5 separate regions of the Homo sapiens genome follow, and all the other regions are linked to region 3. Evidence: fine-mapped expression QTL. Tissue or cell type: whole blood. Region 3 holds a variant in brackets; each other region holds the start of a gene. Each region is shown on its reference strand, or each on the opposite one. Region 1 holds the start of CERS2 (ceramide synthase 2). Region 2 holds the start of UNC119 (unc-119 lipid binding chaperone). Region 3 has its middle 29 kb from the start of PLAGL1. Region 4 holds the start of WAS (WASP actin nucleation promoting factor). Region 5 holds the start of FSCN3 (fascin actin-bundling protein 3).

The links.
Region 1: it holds the start of CERS2, and the variant in region 3 is fine-mapped to the expression of CERS2 in whole blood (TOPMed, PIP above 0.99).
Region 2: UNC119 starts here. The variant in region 3 is fine-mapped to the expression of UNC119 in whole blood (TOPMed, PIP above 0.99).
Region 4: it holds the start of WAS, and the variant in region 3 is fine-mapped to the expression of WAS in whole blood (TOPMed, PIP 0.93).
Region 5: FSCN3 starts here. The variant in region 3 is fine-mapped to the expression of FSCN3 in whole blood (TOPMed, PIP 0.98).

The regions. Positions count from the first base shown.
Region 1 is chr1:150,972,463-150,976,606 of GRCh38, reverse strand. It overlaps CERS2 (ceramide synthase 2), which reads left to right and starts at 1,772. Exons shown (of 11, transcript NM_022075.5): 1 at 1,772-1,988. RefSeq lists silencers at 1,468-1,907, 1,928-2,417, a cis regulatory region at 2,593 and enhancers at 2,521-2,665, 2,623-3,554.
Region 2 is chr17:28,550,436-28,554,435 of GRCh38, reverse strand. It overlaps UNC119 (unc-119 lipid binding chaperone), which reads left to right and starts at 1,812. Exons shown (of 5, transcript NM_005148.4): 1 at 1,812-2,098. The coding sequence starts at 1,879. PIGS (phosphatidylinositol glycan anchor biosynthesis class S) reads left to right here. Exons shown (of 12, transcript NM_033198.4): 12 at 1-1,049. The coding sequence ends at 216. RefSeq lists silencers at 1,636-2,085, 2,146-2,195.
Region 3 is chr6:144,034,943-144,039,086 of GRCh38, reverse strand. It overlaps a transcript of PLAGL1 not described here and the pseudogene LOC100131041. Among named protein-coding and RNA genes, the nearest start is that of PLAGL1, 29 kb to the right of the region's middle. RefSeq lists an enhancer at 2,477-2,526. The variant G/T (reference allele first, on the strand shown) is at 2,468.
Region 4 is chrX:48,681,979-48,686,119 of GRCh38, reverse strand. It overlaps WAS (WASP actin nucleation promoting factor), which reads right to left and starts at 2,321. Exons shown (of 12, transcript NM_000377.3): 1 at 2,135-2,321; 2 at 1,697-1,837; 3 at 487-573; 4 at 284-386; 5 at 133-174; 6 at 1-39. The coding sequence starts at 2,266.
Region 5 is chr7:127,591,305-127,595,448 of GRCh38, reverse strand. It overlaps FSCN3 (fascin actin-bundling protein 3), which reads right to left and starts at 1,713. Exons shown (of 7, transcript NM_020369.3): 1 at 1,452-1,713; 2 at 1-142. The coding sequence starts at 1,595. ARF5 (ARF GTPase 5) reads right to left here. Exons shown (of 6, transcript NM_001662.4): 6 at 3,749-4,144. LOC105375489 (a long non-coding RNA gene) reads left to right here and starts at 3,209. Exons shown (of 3, transcript XR_007060513.1): 1 at 3,209-3,320; 2 at 3,445-3,636.

The DNA of each region.
Region 1 (4,144 bases), not on the chromosome of region 3:
ACAATGGAAGATATGCTAATAAGGGAGGGAGGAGAAAAACACAGCTGGAGGGGTTGCTGGAAACTGGGAGATCAGGCAGGCCTGGGGCTTAGAAAAGCCTAGAGAAACCCTGGGAGCTGGTTAGGGGCCACCACTCTCATCTTTCCCATGGTGTGTCAGGGCTGCGGGTCCCCCTGAAAAGAGAGGCAGAACAAACAGTTGGGTCGGACAGCCTCTACCTCCTTACCCTCCAGAAAGGGCCTGAGATGAGGGATGGGCCCTCCAACTGGATTAGTGGGGGTTGCACTCCTTCCTACGAGTACTTGACCAGATAAACGGGGAAACAAGCTACTGTCAGAGGCTCTGATTGCAACAGCATAAAAAAGGCAATACTTCATCTAGGTGAGAAATTTGACAAAAGTACCTCTCCATGGAGTAAGCTGCAGCTCTCCCTGTATAGGAGCCCTCAAATACATCTTAGTCACCACTCGTTCACGTTAGGAGTTAAGACCAGCTTTCTAGGAAAACCATGTTGCATCTTCCAACAGTAATTACTTCTGAAACAGTAATTTTACCACACGACTCAAGGGGAAAACTTTTTTTTTTTAAATTTATAAAGGAGTTGGGGGTCTCGCTATGTTGACCAGGCTGGTCTTGAACTCTGACCTCAAGTGATCTGCCCACCTCGGCCACCCAAAGTGCTGAGATTACAGGCATAAGCCACGGCGCCAGGCCAAGGGGAGAACACTTTTTTTTTTTTTTTCCTGAGACGGAGTCTCACTCTGTCGCCCAGGCTGGAGTGCAGTGGCGAGATCTCGGCTCACTGCAAACTCCACCTCCAGGGTTCAAGCGATTCTCGTGGCTCAGCCTCCCGAGTAGCTGGGATTACAAGCGCGAGCCACCGTGCCCGGCTAATTTTTGTATTTTTAGTAGAGACAGGGTTTAACCATGTTGGCCAGGGTGGTCTCGAACGCCTGACCTCAGGTGATCTGCCCGCCTCGGCCTCCCAAAGTGCTGGGATTACAGGCGTGAGCCACCGCGCCCGGCCGGAAAACACTTTTTAACACGAAATCGAATACGGATAAACGTGGTGTCATTTGAAAACTCATACATTTTACAAAACAAAAGTTGGGGTGGCTCTTTCAGACAGGGCCGCCGGGTGTGCGCAAGTTCGGGTTTGCTCTTCCTTGCCACGGGGGTAGGTCCCGTAGCACCTAGGTGGAAAGGCCGCGGCTTTTACGGCGGGGTAGGCGAGGGTCGCCCGAGTGATCGCAGGCTCCGACTGGGTCTCGAGGGTCGGCTGCTTCGGTCTGCCCTGGAGAGGTTTTCAGCTTCGGCGCGAGGCACTTGGGCAGGATCCCCGGGCTGCACCCTCCTCCGCCCGCGCCCCGTGGGGCTGGAAGTGGGAATGTGCCCACCCTGGCGGGGACCGGGGGCCGCACAGCAGTTGGGGGTGGGTGGGGGTGGGTAGGAGTAAGGGGACAGGGACACCGCCGCTCGGAGCCCGGGACCCCGCGGCATCCAGTGCGTCTGTGTCGGTCCCAGTGGGAGACCTCCCACCCCGAAAAGAGACCGAAGTGGCGGAAGGAGCCCGCACCCGCCTCCCCAGGTCGGCGGTTTCTCTAGCGCAAGGTGACGGGCGTGGACGCGGCTGTGGGGCCGGGAGCGGAGGGTTGGGGTCTGGCCTCCCGCGCCGGGGCGAAGGGGCAGCCGCAGCGCAGAGGCCCGCCCCGCCCTCCCCTCCCGTCACGCCCAGCCTCCCGGCCCTTGGGCTGCTCGCGGCCTTTTTTTCCCGGCTGGGCTCGGGCTCAGCTCGACTGGGCTCGGCGGGCGGCGGCGGCGGCGCCGGCGGCTGGCGGAGGAGGGAGGGCGAGGGCGGGCGCGGGCCGGCGGGCGGGCGGAAGAGGGAGGAGAGGCGCGGGGAGCCAGGCCTCGGGGCCTCGGAGCAACCACCCGAGCAGACGGAGTACACGGAGCAGCGGCCCCGGCCCCGCCAACGCTGCCGCCGGGTGAGTCGGGGCCCCCGCCCGGCGCCCGAGCCCCGCGCGGGGGTGGGAAGGGGCTGCGGAAAAGTTGGGAGCCCCGGGTGCCGCTTTGTCGCGGGGCCGCGGAGGGGTCGGGCTGGGAAGGCCGCGGGGCCGGGGCGAGGAGGGAGGCGGCGCTGGCGGGGGGCGCTGCGGGCGCTCATGGCGGCGGCCGCCGGGTAAGGCGGGCGCAGCGCCTCAAGGGAGCGGCCGGGGCCGGCGGGCCTGGCGCCGCGGTGTCCGCGGCAGCGCCGCCCTGAGCCGGAGAAGCTTTCCCGGGCAACAGGTAGGGCGGAAGGTGGGGACGCGGGGGCTGCGGGCGACGGGGCCGAGCCGTGGGCTTCCCTTTGTTGGGGAGTGGAGGAGCTTGGTGACCATTGGCGCGAGAGCCTCCACCCTGGCAGCGGCCCGCGGGGTTGCCCTGGCCTGGACGCGTCCTGTGGCTTGGGTGGGAGGAGAGGGGAGGGCCCTGCCCCGTTTTCTTCCTACCGGCCCACCGTGCCCACCTCGCAGGCGAGGTCAGAGCTTCCATGTGCTTAACGGGAAACAGGAAGGAGCGGCCCGGAGCGCCTGCCCCGGCCCGGTAGGGCTAAGGCATACCGTTATGAGGTGTGGATGGCTGGCAAGGGAGCTCCTGGTGGAACTGGCTTTCTGGGCCGTAGCTTGTTAATCACTAGAGGCCCGTGGCAAGTGGGTTGACTGCAGGTGTAGAGCACTCATCTTTAGCCTGCAGTTGGAGTCTCTCCCTCCCTAAGCCTAGCTCCTGGCATCAAAACCTGGTTTCAGTCACCTGAGTTGCCAGGCCCAGGTTCAGGGGGTTCTGAGGATCGTGGCGAATGCAGTGAGCCCCTGTTCCTGGAGAAGTGAGTCCGAGCAGGCCTCCAGCAGGCAGTCACCCCCATATCTGTGCTGGGGCAGGGGTGGGTGGCGGTTGCTGCCGCATACCGGAGTCGGGATGACCGCACCGGGGTGTGAGTGGCTGCACATGTAAAGGGGCTCCTAAGGGTAAGGACTTGCCTGCAGTCCTGTCCCTGAGGACCTGGCGCTGACCATACCGTGATCTGCACAGTCTGTTCCAGAGAGGGATCCTTTTCTCCCCTGGTCCCCCACTTCCCTCACTGGGGCCTCTGGCCAGATTTTCCCCTGGGAGGAAGGGCCTCCTTTTACCCCTGTCACTGGCCATAGGCTGGCTGATCCCTCACTGTGTCCTTCAACACCGCCCCAGCTGTCTCTCAAACCCACCGGCGTCTCCCTGCCCCTGGGGCCATAGTCTCATGCAGTGTTTTGGTCCGTGGAGGCCTTTGGTGGGACTTTGCAGACAAGCTGTAGGCCAGATGAGGCTGAGGACTACTGTTCTGACTGCCTCTCACCCACCTCTTTTTTACAATCTGGCTTATTTTGAGGCCCATCCTGCAGCCTGGAGGGATAACACACCTCTCATTGGCTCCATCCATGGCTTGTAGACTTCTAGTACATGACCTGCTTCTGTTGCCTGAAAGTTTTCAACAAGGAAGACTATTCAGGACTTCTTCAGTGGAAGCAGGGAGCCGGTGGGACCTTTGTCACTCCTCCCTTGTCAACAACTCCTTTCTATTTTCCTCAGTTATTCTTCCAAACTATGAGAGCCAGTCAGACTGACCACCTGGAGTCTGAGAGAATTCCTTCCTCTCAGGCCGAAACTTCTGCCTTCTCAGCCGTTTGGATCTACAAACTCCCATGGGGATCCTCTGCTCCTTTCATCCACCTAGAGGGGTCTTGTGGGGGTGTCAGTCAGAGTTGGGGCAAAGGTTGGGGCTGGACAGAGTCCTGCTCAAGTTCCTGCTAATCTAATGCCAGTTAAATCCCTGCTCTTCTGGCCCCTCTCCAGCCTGTGCCTCAGAAAGTGGCATCTGTGCCTCCAAGGCAGGTGTGTGTGAGAGAGAGCGTAGACAGATACCATGTCTCTTCATGTGTATGGGGGAGTGAAGTCTGGGTGGAAAAGTGTTTCTAGATGTGATTTTCTCCATAAGAAGTCAAGTAACTGCCCTGAAGGCCCAGGGGGCCTGGAAAAACAGGGTTGTCTCCTTACCGTGTGTACACTTCAGCTTTTCTTGCCCCAGCCTCTTGTTTATGGGGTCTTGCTTGGATCTGTGTGCTGGTGC
Region 2 (4,000 bases), not on the chromosome of region 3:
GCATCTGCCTTTGTCGCCAGCCAGGAAGCTGTGACATCCTCTGAGCTTGCCTTCTTTGACCCGTCACTCCTCCACCTCCTTTATTTCCCTGATGACCAGAAGTTTGCCATCTACATCCCACTCTTCCTGCCTATGGCTGTGCCCATCCTCCTGTCCCTGGTCAAGATCTTCCTGGAGACCCGCAAGTCCTGGAGAAAGCCTGAGAAGACAGACTGAGCAGGGCAGCACCTCCATAGGAAGCCTTCCTTTCTGGCCAAGGTGGGCGGTGTTAGATTGTGAGGCACGTACATGGGGCCTGCCGGAATGACTTAAATATTTGTCTCCAGTCTCCACTGTTGGCTCTCCAGCAACCAAAGTACAACACTCCAAGATGGGTTCATCTTTTCTTCCTTTCCCATTCACCTGGCTCAATCCTCCTCCACCACCAGGGGCCTCAAAAGGCACATCATCCGGGTCTCCTTATCTTGTTTGATAAGGCTGCTGCCTGTCTCCCTCTGTGGCAAGGACTGTTTGTTCTTTTGCCCCATTTCTCAACATAGCACACTTGTGCACTGAGAGGAGGGAGCATTATGGGAAAGTCCCTGCCTTCCACACCTCTCTCTAGTCCCTGTGGGACAGCCCTAGCCCCTGCTGTCATGAAGGGGCCAGGCATTGGTCACCTGTGGGACCTTCTCCCTCACTCCCCTCCCTCCTAGTTGGCTTTGTCTGTCAGGTGCAGTCTGGCGGGAGTCCAGGAGGCAGCAGCTCAGGACATGGTGCTGTGTGTGTGTGTGTGTGTGTGTGTGTGTGTGTGTGTCAGAGGTTCCAGAAAGTTCCAGATTTGGAATCAAACAGTCCTGAATTCAAATCCTTGTTTTTGCACTTATTGTCTGGAGAGCTTTGGATAAGGTATTGAATCTCTCTGAGCCTCAGTTTTTCATTTGTTCAAATGGCACTGATGATGTCTCCCTTACAAGATGGTTGTGAGGAGTAAATGTGATCAGCATGTAAAGTGTCTGGCGTGTAGTAGGCTCTTAATAAACACTGGCTGAATATGAATTGGAATGATACAAAGTCTGAGCTCTACTCTTTCTGCATTCACGCGTAAGTAACAGTTTCCTGGTGTTTGTCCTCCTGTGCCCACAGGTCCACTTTGCTTCCACGTGGCCATGTGCCCTTCCTAGCTGGATTGCCCAAGGCTGTTAGCATCTGCTTTTTACCTGAGATACTAATTCATCAGGTCAAAAAAAAAAAAAAAAAAAAAAAAAAAGTCTTGAGCACCAGCTGCAGGGAGCCTTCTGCTAGGTACAGGGGTCCTACAGAGAACAAAGTAGGCAGGACCAGTGCTTTCACAGAGCTGAGCTTTCAGGGGGAAGAGTCAGCGGACAAATAAAAATAATTTCACATAATGCATTAGAAAGACAAAAACAGGCTGGTCAGATGGTGACTGAGGGGGAAGGACTTCAGACTGGGTGTGAGGGAGGCCCTTTGAGCAGATGACATTTGAGCTGTGACTAGGAGAAAAGAGGCCATCTGGGGAAGACCATCCAAGCAGAGACCCTGAGCCTGGAACTCACGGGCAGAAAGGCTGGAACACAATGAGTAAGCGGAGAGGTAGTCAGGACCCCACTAGTACCAGTACAAGAAAGTGTTAGAAAAACAGAATGAAGCCCAGGGCAGGATACCCCGACTCCCATCCCCCGCGCCCGTCGCATTTCGGGAGGGTTGGGCCGGGCGGCGGGCGGGATCAGCGCAGGGCCCACCCCAGGGGCGGGGCCGGGGCGGGGCAGTACCTGGGGCCCCGGCCGGGGGCGGGGCTGCGGATGCTCCCACTTCCCCCGGCTCCAGCCGGCGCAGGCAGCGGCGGCAGCAGCAGGCGAGCCTCGGCCCCGCAAGGCCATGAAGGTGAAGAAGGGCGGCGGTGGGGCCGGGACGGCGACGGAGTCCGCTCCGGGGCCCTCGGGCCAGAGCGTGGCCCCCATACCACAGCCGCCTGCGGAATCCGAATCTGGGTCCGAGTCGGAGCCGGACGCAGGCCCAGGGCCCAGGCCGGGGCCGCTGCAGAGGAAGCAGCCGATCGGGCCGGAGGACGTGCTGGGGCTGCAGCGGATCACCGGTGGTGAGCACCCGCGAGGGAGCGCCGCCCGCGGGTGGGAAGGGGAGAGGGTGCGAGGGGCCCTCCCGGCGCGCCAAGCCCTGGCCCCCGCCCCCTTTCCCGCCTCCCCTCCCCCACCGAGTCCCCTCTCCTGTGTCCCCTGCTCTCCCTTCTGCCGCCAGGTCTGAGATCTCTGTGTACCCCCTTCCCTTGATCTCTCTCTGTGCCTCCTTCTTCTCCCTTTCGAGATTTATTCCTTCCTTTTCCAGGGGCCCGTCCCCTTTTCCCAGCGTGGAGGTACGTGCGGCAGCAGCTGCAACCATAGCCCTGTAGCTGTGGAGTCTCCAGAGCGCTTTGAGGCCCGTCCCTGCACTAATGAAGAGAGGGGCTGAGTGCAGCCTGTCCTCAGCCCCCACGCTGGAGGCTAGGTGGAGGCTGAGTTACTTGGGAGGCATTCAGACTCTTCATGTCTCCCCAACCATTAATACCCTCACCCTGATCCTCCAGGAAGACTTGGGCCATTTTCTTCCCCGGGAAAGAAACTGAGCAGGCAGCTTTAGTGTGTTGGCTGTGGTTCCTCTCATGGGGAGTGGCATAATGTCCCTCCAAGCCTGGACTAGCACCTGTCCTCTTCTGGGGGCTCTGTCATCAAGGGAGGCTTGGTCTCCACTGTGGTTAAGAGTTTCTGAGCTGGACTGCCTGGGTTGGAGTTCCAACTCTGCCATATAATTGTCTGTGTGACCTTGGGCAAGTAACCTCACCTCTCTGAGCATGTCTTTTCATCTGTAAAATGGGGATAATGATACCTTTCTCGTAAGATTATTGTGAAGATAAGTCCTCTGATTCTGTACAGTGCCTGGCATCTATGCATGCTGTGTACATTGGGCTCTTTGATCAGTAGTATTTTTGGGCCCTACAGGGCTGCTCATAGCTGCTGCCTGGAGTCAAACAACTTGGCTTTCAGGGCAGGGGAGGGGGTCATCATAGGCAGGGAACGAGGGCTAGGAAACCTCATAGCAGAGGCTTTGGATGAGCCTCAAAGGATGAAAGGTGCATGGAGAGACAGTGGCTCTCCACCTTGGCCACATTCACCAGCAACCTGCCCTGGCCCCCTTTGTGAGAATAACTGTTGGGGGGGGCCTCTCTGTGGGTATGGGGGGCATGTATTGGAGTGGACCTGAGCCCTAGAGCTTCCAAAGCAGCAGAACACCGGACTCCCAGACAGAGCTGTGGAGGGGAGACAGCCTTGAGCCTGTGCTCCTGGGTCCCTGGGGGCCAATTCCTCTCTCCTTACTGAGCTAGGCAGCAGCCATTCTTAGCTGGGCCCCCAGAGTACTGAGCTCCCTTGCCCAAGCAGGCATCAATGGAGAGAGGGAGGCTGGACCAGGCTGATGTTGAAGCCAGTTGGGCTACAATTTGCAATAGCAGCATTTAGGATTCAGCTTAGCTCTGGGGCAGAACTTTCTCAGACTGACTGAGTCCTGAGTAACTTTGGGGGTTTATTTTGCAACTAGAGGGAGCTTCCAGCTCATGTACCACCATTTGTCTCCTAATTTGGAGGAAATTCATAGCCCTTAGAGATGGGGCATCTGTGAAGGGTAAGTAGAGGAAAGGGCTTCATGAGAACCCCTTCCTGTGCAGGAATTGAGAACAGAGTTCCAGGGATTTCCACCCTGGCACCCCTTGCCTGGTCTCTTCTGACCCTAATCATGCAGGTCTGAGGTTTGCTGTTCCCAGATTACTGGGCCCTGAATCCAGCTTAGGAAGCTATTTGTGGCTGAGAGGAATAGAGCAGTTGTGTTCTGAGCCCTTGGCCACTCTGCCCCTTATTCTGACCTGACCCTGGGTCCCAGGCCTCATCCTTTCTAGAAGAGAAGGAGTGGCCGTGGTGTTCTGAGCCATAGATATCCGTGTTCCTCACTTCTT
Region 3 (4,144 bases):
TACTTTATGTCTTTCCCCTATCCCTGAGCTACTTCTGATATTTATTTTCTATATTACTGGCTCTCAGCAATTTTTATGATGTGTCTCTTGGCATGGTTTTCTTTTCTTTTTGTAAAAAACAACTTACTGAGATATAGTTCACATATCATACAATTCACCCATTTAAAATGGCTTTTAGTATATTCATAGAGTTGTGCATTTTCCACTATAATCAAGTTTATGACTTTTTCATTTAGTCATCATCCCCACTCCTTTCATCACTTTTAGCCCTAGGCAGTCACTAATCTACTTTCTGTCTCTCTAGATTTGGCTACTCTGGGCATTTCATATAAATGGGATCATATAATATGTGGTTCTTTGTGATTGATTTCTTCACACAGTATAATGTTTTCAAAGGCCACCCATGTTGTAGCATGTATCAGTACTTCATTTATTTTTATTTCCAAATATATTTCTTTGTTTGGACATGTCATTTTATTTATCCATTCATTGAAAAAAAACTATTCTTTCCCCATTGAATTGTCTTGGCATCCTTGTCAGAAATCTACTGGGTACAGACATATGGGTTTATTTATGGGTGCTTGATTCTATTCATTAATCTATAGCTAGCCTTAATGCCAGTACCTCATTGTCTTGATTACTGTAGCTTTGTAGTAAGTTTTGAAATTAGGGAGGATGGCCCCTTAACTTTGTTCTACTCTTTCAAGATTTTTTGGTAATTCTGGTTCCCTTGAATTTTCATATGAATTTTAGGAACAGCTTGTCAGTTTCTACAATGAAATTAACCAAAATCTTGATAGGGCAACCTTATGTAGTGAAGAAGCCTCACAAGTTCAAACAAACAAACAATAAGTAGATAAGTTTCAGTCGTATTACCGTCTTAACACATGTAGCTTTATTTTTTGTGCTTTGGAGTTTATTAAGATTCATAGATCTGCAGGCTTATCGCTTTCATCAGATGTGTAGCATTTTCAGCCATTATTTTGTCAAATGCTATTACTATCCTCCATCTGAGACTCCAACTACTATCTGTTAGACAACTTGATATTGTTCCCACAGATCTCAGAGACTTTGCTCATTTTTTTCAATTATTTTTCTCTTTGCATAGGTGGGAGTTAGTTCATTTTAGTATTACCATTTATTGGCGACAAGCGCTAACTTTTCTTACATTCTAAGGGGGGAAATTGTAGCCTGAACAATGAATCAAAGCAGTACTAAGTCTCAAGAGTACGTGCTTTTCATTGCAGAACCTTACTGTGTACATTTCTATGTACAATAGCACAACATCAAAAGCAGTAGTTTGGGTTTGGGTTTTTTTGTGAAAGTGACTATTTTGTAAACAAAGACAGTAAATATCTAAGAAAATATAGAAATAAAAAACATAGTTCATAATGTTGATATGCATTGTATTCCTTAAAAGAAATGAAACTGTCACCATCATGATCATTTTTCTTTAAAATATCTTCTAAAACTGCTTTGTTTTTGTTTTTTTTAGAAATGGAGTCTTGCTCTGTCACCCAGGCTCGAGTGCAGTGGCACAATCATATGATAGCTCACTGCAGTCTCGAACTTCTGGGCAAAAGCAATCCTCCCATCTCAGCCTCCTAAGTAGCTGGGACTACAGGTGCACACTGTCACACCCAGCTATTTTTTTTTTTTTTTTTTTTTTTTGGTAGAGATGGGGCTTCACCGTGTTGTCCAGGCTGGTCTGGAATTCCTGGGGTCAAGTTATTGTCCCACGTTGGCCTCCCAAAATATTGGGATTACAGATGTGAGCCACTGTGCCTGGCCTAAAACTGCATTCTGATATGACTTGTCACATGGCTTCTCATCTTTTTAAAACTTCTCTTTTAGGTAGTGATTAGCTCTGTTTTAGAGAGTTGTCTGTCATGGTGTCTTTCTGTTTAAATGGTTCAGTGGTCCTCTGGTCACAGCATAAAATTCAGTCTCAAAAATCAGTGTTGTATCAGGTGGACTCTTGCCTTTACATGTATACTTAATTAAAGCACTAAAATATCACATGCTTTTAGAGACACGCAGGCGTGCTCTGTGACAAGAGGCAAGCAGACTGTGCGAAGGAAAGATTTAAGATACTACCTTTAGTTTTCCTTTCCATGTGCAAATGAAGGTGGTGTAATCACTTTCTGCCTCTCTCCAGGGCATATAATTCATCACAGCAATGTCTGGTCCTTTTATGATTTGTCCAACACCAAGAACAAACCATTAGGGGATGGCCTTCATTTTATGCCAGAGTATTTCAAACCTGTTTAGTCAAATAGTGTCATAATGGGCATTTAGCAGGTCTGCCTTCTTGCTTGTCTTAGAGCAGTTTTCTGGAAGTTGCACAATTTCTGTTCTGTAGTTTCACTTTTTCCATTCTTTCCTCTTTCTTTCGTCCCTGAGTAGTGAAGAAGCCTCACAAGTTAAAACAAACAAAACAAAAAGCTATTCTGAATAAGAAACACAT[G/T]TTCCTAGAGTTGGCCCCTAGATGTCTACCACGCTCTTTCCAGCATGTCACTTGCACCCGGTAGCAGCCCCAGGACTGGAGTCCTGTCACGCGGCAGTAATTGTCCTGTCACAAAGTGCTGAGGGTGTGGAGTTGTGTAGCGGGTCCCCTTGTCTGGGCAGGCTCGGCTGTGGAATTTTTGCCCATTTGGTGTGGAGCATGTGCCCCTTTGGTACTGGGCATGTGGGCTGGCTGTCTTCAGTCACTAAGACTGAAGCATTGCACACTTGCACCACTTCTCTGCACAAAGTCTGTGTATTTCACAGCTGATTTCCTCAGGATTGTGTTATAAGGCTTGTGTTTCCTAAAATGAAACTGGCAAAGATGAAATAGCCTAAATGGACTGTTCTTAGAGTCAGAGGAAGTGGTTGTCATTTCTGGGCATAAAAGACTTCTCCTCAGGCCCCTAAGCATTAGTGAGCATTGGAAGGAGTCATTCTGGAGGCAGAGCATAAAAGTCGGCTTGTAGCTGCCCTCTGGGTCCACCTGGGGTGTCCTTGAAGCACTTTCTTGGGGTTGGAGTCCTGCATTGAGGGTTTCCAGGCTAAGCCACACGTAATCAGATGGCCATCCAGGCACAATAAAACCCAGAAATGCCCCTGCTCCTCCACCTCCTTAAAGAAGTTTCTCACCAGCCCACTCCAGTGATCCCTGAACTGCGTTTCTTTGCCCCACCAGGTGGCTACCCTTGATTTGAGGGCCTCTAGTAGTGCCAGAAATGTTCTTGACATTGTCATTTTTCTCATCAACCATATGAGATCAGTAATGATCTACATTACACATATTAAAAAAATGAGGTATCATATCTAGAGGCAAAAAGAAGAAAAAACAAGAAAATGAGGTAATTTGAGTATTGGGCATTTTGTTCTAGTCTCACCACTCATAGCAACAGGGATTTGACACAAAGCCTCTTGCCCCCTGTGATGGTTAATATTGAATGTCAACTTGATTAGATTGAAGGATGCAAAGCATTGTTCCTGGGCATCTCTGTCAGAGTGTTGCCAAAGACGATTAACATTTGAGTCAGTGGACTGGGTGAGGAGACCCACCCTCAGTCTGGTTGGGCACCATCTAATCAGCTGCCAGCACGGCTAGAATAAAGCAGGCAGGAGAAGATGGGAGGGCAGATTTGCTGAGTCTTCCGGCCTTCATCTTTCTCCCGTGCTAGATGCTTGCTGCCCTTGAACATTAGACTCCAAGTACTTCAGCTTTTGGACTCTTGGACTTACACCAGTGGTTTTCCATGGGCTCTCGGGCCTTTGGCCATAGACTGAAGGCTGCACTGTGAGCTTCCCTATCTTTGAGTTTTTGGTGCTTGGATTGATCTACCACTGGCTTCCTTGCTCCTCAGCTTGCAGGAGGCCTATTGTATGACTTCACCTTGTGATTGTGTGAGTCAATTCTCCTTAATAAACTCCCTCTCATATATACATCTATCCTATTAGTTATGTGTCTCTAGATAACCCTAATATACCCCCAACCCCCTGAAACATTTTAGTATGAAAAACTTTGAAATGTACAGGAAAGTTGAATTTTACAGTGAATGCCCTTATACCCACCACTAGATTCTATCATTAACATTTAACTGTTCTCAATGTATTACATACCCATCCATCAATTTACCTTATTTCCAAGTTA
Region 4 (4,141 bases), not on the chromosome of region 3:
CTGGATGCAGGGGCAGGGGTGGGAGCCCTCCTCTTCTCTCTGGGAAGATGGAATGTGTAGAGAGTTATCACAGCCCTGCCACAGGTTCCTGGGCTAGCCCCTTATTACCCCTACTTGCACTAGAGGACTCACCTTCATTGGCTGGTGTTGGTGGTGGGGGTAGCTGGCGTCTGTCTGTGGATAGATGGATTGGGAGCCAGGACCATGAGAGGGGACTTTTCTAGTTCCCCAGGCTTGCACTCACCTCTGCCCAACTTCCTTTCCTCCCCTGTGGCCTCCTCACCTCCACTTTGCCTCTGATTCCTTTTTTGTATCTTCTCCTGCACGAGGGCCCGGAAGGCCTGGGCCTCGTCCTCGTCTGCAAAGTTCAGCCCCGCTTGGCAGTCCTGCACATACCTTGGGGTCAGCCGCCTCCCAGGTCCCCCGCAACTTTCCCATCTCCTCTCCACACCCCAAGTGAGGCCCGAGGGCTGGTTGATCACTTACATCTCCAGCGAAGGTGTGGAAGAAGGGGGTGGGGGTGGAGTAGACAAGCTGTGAGTACAGCTCCTGTTCCCAGAGCAGCCGACCAGCCTGGAGAGGTGTAGGGTGGGAGGCACAGTGGCACTGAGGCACGCCGGGGGTGGCAGGCTTTTGTTAGCTGGGCAGGGAGCAGGGTGTCTGGATTTGGGAGCCTCATAGTCTGGTTTGGAGATTTTCAGCTCAGCACCAGAGAGTTGGTGTCTAAGGGTGTGGATTGTGGGGTATAGTCTGGGAGCCATACACTTTTGTGAGAGGTTTGGATTTGGGGTTTGGGGCCCTAGATCTGGGACTTGGGGGCTTGAATTTCATAATTTAGGACTCTAGTCTTAGGAAGTTGAGGCTCATTCACAGATTCAATCCATGCCCTCCCCCACCACCCCAGCCCCAATTCATGACAGGTAGGATTCTAGTATTTGGGGGTTGGAGTTGAGATTTGAAGTTCAGACACATAGACTTGGGAGTTTCGCGGGGAGTCCAGCTAAAGTAAGTGCAATTTGGGGTTTGTGGAGAGAGTTATGGTTTAGGAGTTTGGTGGATATTTGATAGCCTTGGGATCTGGAAGTTATGCTGGGTCCATCTTTATGGGTTTAAAAGGATGAATTTGGGGCTTAAACCTAGAAAGTTCAGGTCAGGGGATTGTGGAAAAGACTTTTTGCTTAAGAACTACCTCGGTATTTGAGTGTTCAGGAATTTTAATATGGGAACTCTGGGGTCTGTGCTGTGGATTTAGAAGGACAGATTTGGAGTTCAAGGATCAATGGAATATTCAACTTTGGGGTTTGTTGAACAGATTTATGACTTAGGAGCTTGGCAAACATCTGGGGTTCAGGAGTTTTGATGAGAGATTCCTGGGATGCAAAATGTTGAGTTTAGAATAGATTTGAGGTTCAGGTACAAATACAGTGCTCATTTATTGGAATTTGTGGAAAAGATTAGGCTTAGGCAGCAGACTAATACTGGGGGCTTTAGAGATCTTGATACGGAGACTGGGGCCAGTCATTGCAGACTTAGAAAGGCAAGTCAGAGTTTGCCATCTGGATGAGTCTTTGGTTCTGGGGCTCAGGGATTCACTGATCAGGTCTGAGGTCTTGAAGCTATGGACACATATGGACACAGATCTGGGTTTGCGGGTTGAGAACTGGCTTGCAAGTCCAGTCGGGGGTGGGGGGGTCACCTGAAGGCCGTAAAGGCGGATGAAGTAGGACTTCTGGGGGTTATCCTTCACGAAGCACACAGCCCCACAATGCTCCTTGGTCCAGTGCTCAGCTCCAGGGGGCAGCGCCAGGTACAGCTGAACAACTGCAGTGGCCAGCGTCTGGGAGAGGAAAGCAGGGGTCAGTGGAGTCTGGTCAGGGGTAGCCACAAGGTCTTGGAGCCAGACCTGGTCCTTCCTGCCTCATGACAGTCATGGGCCCAAAGGAAGAGCTGCAGCCAGAGGGAAGGCAAGTAGACATTGAGATCTTCCTGGGAAGGGTGGATTATGACGGGAAATTCTAGGAGAGGAGATGATGGAGAGGGAAAGGAGGAGCGGGAGGAGGGGAAGAGAGAGAAGGAGGAGAGGAAGAGGAAGAAACGGTGGGGACGGGGCGGGGGCAGGAGATCCCCAGCTCACCAAGCATTTTCGTCCAAGCATCTCAAAGAGTCGCTGGTTCTCGTGGTCCTGGAGGAGGGTGGAGGGTATGTTCTGCTGAACCGCTGGTGCTCCTCGGCCCCCGGGCCTTCCTCCCATTGGGCCCCCACTCATGGTGCTTTCTGCCCTTGTCTTCTCTGGCGAGGCTCTGGGTGCAGGGTAAGAAGAGGAACTTCCGCAATGAGCAGCAAGGGAACAGGAAATGCAAAAAACCACAAGGGACAAGGGAAACAAGTCCTCCAGGGGCCCCTTGGTGGGCCTGGCCTCCTCGTTAGGCTGAGCTTGGGCCCTCCGCCATCAGATTGGAACCCTCCTCCACTTGACTGCTTAGACCCACCTTTTGGATCAGCTTGGGTCCTCCTCCCCCTTTCTTACTCTCTGGGGCCCATCTCCTTCTGACTGGCTCAGACCCTCCTCCCTCTGGCTGGCAGCGAGAGCTTAGCACATCTGTGTGCAGGGCTCCCTGTGGCAAGGAGTAGTCATGGGCCTGGGTGGCCTCCTTTCTAAAGCACCTAGGTAGCCTGAGGCTGAGGCCCGAGGTCCCTAGTCCGGAAGGGTTACTACAGTAAAACTTTTCCTTTTGGCTGGGGACAATAGCTCACACCTGTAATCCCAGCACTTTGGGAGGCCGAGACGAGTGGATCACTTGAGGTCAGGAGTTCAAGACGAGCCTGGGCAACATGGCAAAACCCCATTTCCACTAAAAAATACAAAAATTAGCCAGGCATGGTGGCACACACCTGTAGTCCTAGCTGCTCAGGAGGCTGAGGCAGGAGAATCGCTTGAACCCAGGAGGCGGAGGTTGCAGTGAGCTGAGACTGCACCACTGCACTCCAGCCTGGATGATGACAGAGCAAGACCCTTGTCTCAAAAACAGCAACAACAACAACACAACAAAAACCCTTTTCCTTTTAATTACAGAGCGAGCCCCTGTGATCCACGCCTATCGTGAGTGCTTAGACACTGCCAATGACGCATATGCCTCTGGTCCACTTCCCCATCCCTTACCCTTGCCTCCCCGCAGCTCCCAAATTACTTTCTGCTTGTCATACTTTTTTTTTTCTTTTTTTTTTTGAGATGGAGTCTCACTCTGTCGCCAGGCTGGAGTGCGGTGGCACGATCTCGGCTCACTGCAACCTTTGCCTCCCGGGTTCAAGTGACTCTCCTGCCTCAGCCTCCCAAGTAGCTGGGACTACAGGCACACGCCACCACGCCCAGCTAATTTTTTTGTATTTTTAGTAGAGACAGGGTTTCACCATGTTGGCCAGGATGGTCTCGATTTCTCGACCTCGTGATCCACCTGCCTCGGCCTCCCAAAGTATTAGAATTACAGGCGTGAGCCACCGTGCCCAGCCCATCCCTTTTTTAAAGAAAGGAACTTTATATCATATATGAATGCCTGAACAACATCTTGTTTAGTTTTCATTGCACTTGAAGTTTGTAAAAGCACATAATCTTCAAAGGCTTGCTTTCTCCCCACTGGACATCCTAGTTTTATCTTAACACTCACATAGCACTTAACGTGTGTGCCAGTCACTGTTCTGACCCCTTTGCCCGGAGTGCGAGCCAGGCAGGCCAGGTGTGAGTGCATGGTCTCGTCCCTCCACGCCTTCACTCTTGGCTGTTGCTGTGATTCCTGTTTGCCTATAGTGGTAGCTGTTCATTTATTTCCACTGCCATACAGCATTCCATGGTGTGCATGTGCAGCCTGGGTGTCCATATTCTCCTGTAACAGCCCTTTGGGCTGCTTCTGGTTCTTGCTGTTGGGAGCAACACTGCAGTGTTCACTCCCGCACACATCTCCTGGTCCACATAGGCATGCAGACTCTCAGACGGGAATCTGAGGGCTGTAGGGTTTGCATGTCTCTAACTTCTCCAGATGATGCCAGACTATTTCCACAAGTGAATGCTAGCTCAGTCCCCGGCCTCCCCAGGCCTCAGTTTCCCCATGTATGAGGTAGGCCATTTGGAGACTTGAAGCTCTCAGAT
Region 5 (4,144 bases), not on the chromosome of region 3:
GAAAGCACCCATGGTGGCTGGTCCTTGGGCGGCCATAACACACGGTGCCATCACACTCACACAGCAGGTAGAGGCCCTGCACGCTCTTTAGTCGCACCACGGCCTGTGTCTCATGCTCATTGCTCACCAAGATCTCCCAGGTCTGGAGGCATCAGGAGGGAGAAGAGGGAAATCAGTATCACGAAGTTACCAGACCAAGGAGCCCTGCAACTGTCATGGCTGGTATCACCCTGGCACCTTCATCAGCACCAGCCACCTCCTCTTCCACATCAGCCCTGGTATCTCCTTGCTGTCAGCTCTTCCACTTTCCCACTATCCCCTCATCAAGAGATCTCTGGGCCCTTCCACCCCTGCAGCCAGATGGCACTATCCAAAGAGAAGTTCTAGATGTCTACCTCCTTCAGCTAACAGAAGGTAAACCCTCCCTCCTTTCTTAATCCCACTCTTCAATACCTAATTTTTAAAGAAACGCTTTGGTGTAAGTCTTACTTTTTTCTTCCTCACTGTTGTCCGCAGAGAGCACACTTAGCCAATACCTCCATCCCCAAAGGTTGCCTTCCAGCATGGCAAGACAGAAGCAAAAGCTCTTATAGGCAGGCCCTGGCTCCAGGGATGAAGATGGGAGCATGAACAGTTCAGATGCAACTGCCTGGTTCAGCTGTGATCAACCTTGTTATAAGAGGAAGAACTTTGCCCCTGCCTCAGTCTGGCACCCATCCCAGAGGTGCCTACATTCCTCTCTAGAATGAAGACCGACACTGCTAGGGCTTCTGGAGTTCCCCATTCTCAAACCACAACCAGAACAGAAACATAGGCTTTGCAATAACTCCACTGGTCCAACTTCCCCTGGATGCCCACAATTCTGCTTTCCCACCTGGGCTCTCCACTTCTCCTCTTTCTGACACAACCACCCTGTGCTCTCCACTTCTCTTCTTTCTGACACAACCACCCTGTGCTGGGATGGGGAATAGGGACAGTTAGAGCAGGACAAGGCAGCAAGGGCAAGGCTGAGGCTTCACCTTGCGGAATAAATTGAGAGGTGGGAGATGGGGCAATAGGGTCTGTGAACAAAAGCCTAGAGTAGAAAAGTCTCAGGCCTGGCACTGGCAGAACCTAGGAAAGTGATTAGGTTGAGAGTACACCCTGCTTTCATATACAGGCAAGTGCGCACACACACACACACACACACACACACACACAGCTTGGCCACTCAGAAAACTGGTTCCAGTATACTTTCATATACAGGCAAGTACACACACACACACACACACACACACACACACACACAGCTTGGCCACTCAGAAAACCGGTTCCAGTATACTTTCATATACAGGCAAGTACATACACACACACACACACATACACTCACGCACACACACGCGCGCGCGCACACACACACACACAGCTTGGCCACTCAGAAAACTGGTGCCAGCATGGGTTTGCTTTGTCACCTGTCTCCTGCCCAAACTCTTCGCAGTTGCAGTGACTGTATTCTTGCATGCCTCAAAGGTGAGGTAGGTTCCTGCCCAGCTGATGAGCCCAACCCTTAGGTCCTCAGCCTTGGGATGTCTGTGTATCCACTCTGTCTCATCCATGGGGCTGACACCACAGGTGATGTCTCCGTCTGGCCCAGCCCTCCCCCCCGTGGTGAGGTTCCACAGGCCATAGGGCCTGGAATAGGGCCTGTAGTACCCACCAGATGTTCCCAGAGAGAACTTCCCAGGCAGAGGCTGGCCTGGGGCCCAGCACCTCTGTGACCCGGGAGCATTGTGACTGTGAGGGCAGCCTCTTATCACACCACAGTGGGGAAAGGGCCCTGGCGCAGCAGCATTAATCCATGGCCTAGAGGAGGCGGGTGCAGAGCCTCCGGTGTTTGCCTTCCTATTCCCCTTTGGGCACCAAAGTAGGCTGAGCTGAGACCAGGATCCGGAACTTCAACCTGTGAATTTAGGCAAGTTTTTTCCTTTCTTTACCTCCGTTTCTCATTCTGGTAACAGGATAGAAAGCAACCTCCTTTCTCCCAAGGAAGTGAGTTCTGCCTGGCTCCCTTGCAACTCAAGTATTTTGTTAAGTTCAAGATAACCAAGAAAAATCTATCAGCTTTTATGGCCCTTAGGAGGATGAGGTCAAAATGTTCCAGATGCTATTTTGCAGGGAGTATGAGGAAACCCTAGTTAATCAGTTGACATCAAATTACTCATATTCATCAGGAAGGCTGGCTCAGGACCTGGGTAAGGAGAAGGGCCTAGGTGGAGAGAGCACCAAGCACCCCTCCTCAACCCCAGCTGCTCTGCCAGTGGGTAGGACATCTGGCTGGGCAGATAGAGCTCCTGCAAGGGTATCTTTCCCCTCCAAAGAATCTCTGAGTTATAGTCTCTTGGACTCACTTCCTGCAAAGCTTGAGGAGAAAACCCAGCTCAGAACCTGGAAAAGTGACATGAAAGAAAAACAAAGGCAAAAACAAGTGATGATGAGTTCTGCCTAAGCCTGGCTAGGATCCAAGGGAAAATGGGCAGTCGATCACACTTGGGGAATAAGCCACACCCCTGGTTCCTTTTTCTGAGTCAGGGTCTTGCTCTGCTAGCCAGGTTGGAGTGCATCTCAGTTGACTGCAGCCTTGATCTCCCAAGCTCAAGCGATCCTCCCGCCTCAGCCTCCTGAGGTGCTGGGACCACAGGTGTCCATCTCCATGCCCAGGTAATTTTTTATTTTTGTTTTTTGTAGAGATGGGGTCTTGCCATGTTGCCCAGGCTGGTCTTTAACTTCTGGGCTCAAGCAATCCTCCTACCTCAGCCTCCCAAAGTGCTAGGATTACAGGCATGAGCCACAGTGCCCAGCCACCCGTGGTTCCTTATACCTGCTTTCCTATTCCCCATAGGAGGGGTCTTCCCAAGTAGCAAGAGTCTCAGTGGTGTGCAGCAAGGAACTACAAGCCCCAGACCCCACCGATGTTTTATAAAATAAGGGTAATAGACTATTAGTGGCAGAATTCCCTGGGTAATTTTATTTATTTATTTAATTTATTTATTTATTTTGAGACGGAGTCTCACCCTGTCACCCAGGCTGGAGTGCAGTGGCACGATCTCAGCTCACTGCAAGCTCCGCCTCCCAGGTTCACACCATTCTCCTGCCTCAGCCTCCTGAGTAGCTGGGGCTACAGGTGCCTGCCACCACGCCTGGATAATTTTTTGTATTTTTTTTTTTCTAGTAGAGATGGGGTTTCACCGTGGTCTCGATCTTCTGACCTCGTGATCCGCCTGCCTCAGCCTCCCAGAGTGCTGGGATTACAAGCGTGAGCCACTGCGCCCGGCCTCCTCTGGGTAATTTTAAAGATGCATATTGTTGGGCATCAGACTAGTCCTGATGAATCACATTTTCTGAAATGTACCTCAGGATTCGTATTATTAACGCACATTCTCTCCCCCTCTAATTTTAATGTGTAAGGCAAACATTAAGAACGGCTCTAAGTAGCTACGAGAATGATGGGAAACAATTACGTGGTTCATGGAACTATGAAGGGAGATCCTGTAATCTTCAGCAAAGGCTCCTTGGAGCTGGGAAGGAATGAGATTTGCACCACTGTAAACCCTACAGTATTTCCAGCCCAAGAATAAGGAGGGAGAAGCTGAGCTGAGGGTATGTGTGGGTGGGGTTGCCCTGCAGCCTTAGCTGCTTTGATCCTCTCCCACGTTGTCTCTTGGTACCCAGTAACCTAGCCTCTCCTTTGCAGGCTACAGACAACACCGTGTACAAACCACAGCAAATTTATTACTCAAGATCCAGTGCCACATTATAGCACCACCCGAAGCCCTCACCTTCCCCCTCCCAACCTGGCCCCTAGAGTACACCCAAAACAGAAAAAAAAAAGGAAACCCAGATCCCTGCTCCTCCTCTGGAAGAGGGGGCCTTGGCCAGGAAGCCCCTTCCATAGGTCCCAGCAGGCAGGAGAGTGGACCCCTCTGTGCCCAGAGAGCAAGGCTCCAGGCTCCAACAACAGAGAGAACATGCAGGCAGGAGCAGGAGCAGAGGCCTGTGGCTATGGGGGAGGAAAAGTGGGAGGAAAGGGCACTGCCTGAGGAGTCCGGGAGTCTGGTCATCCCGGGGATGCACGCAGGAGCTTCCGGGCATCAGGGGCCTGCCCCTG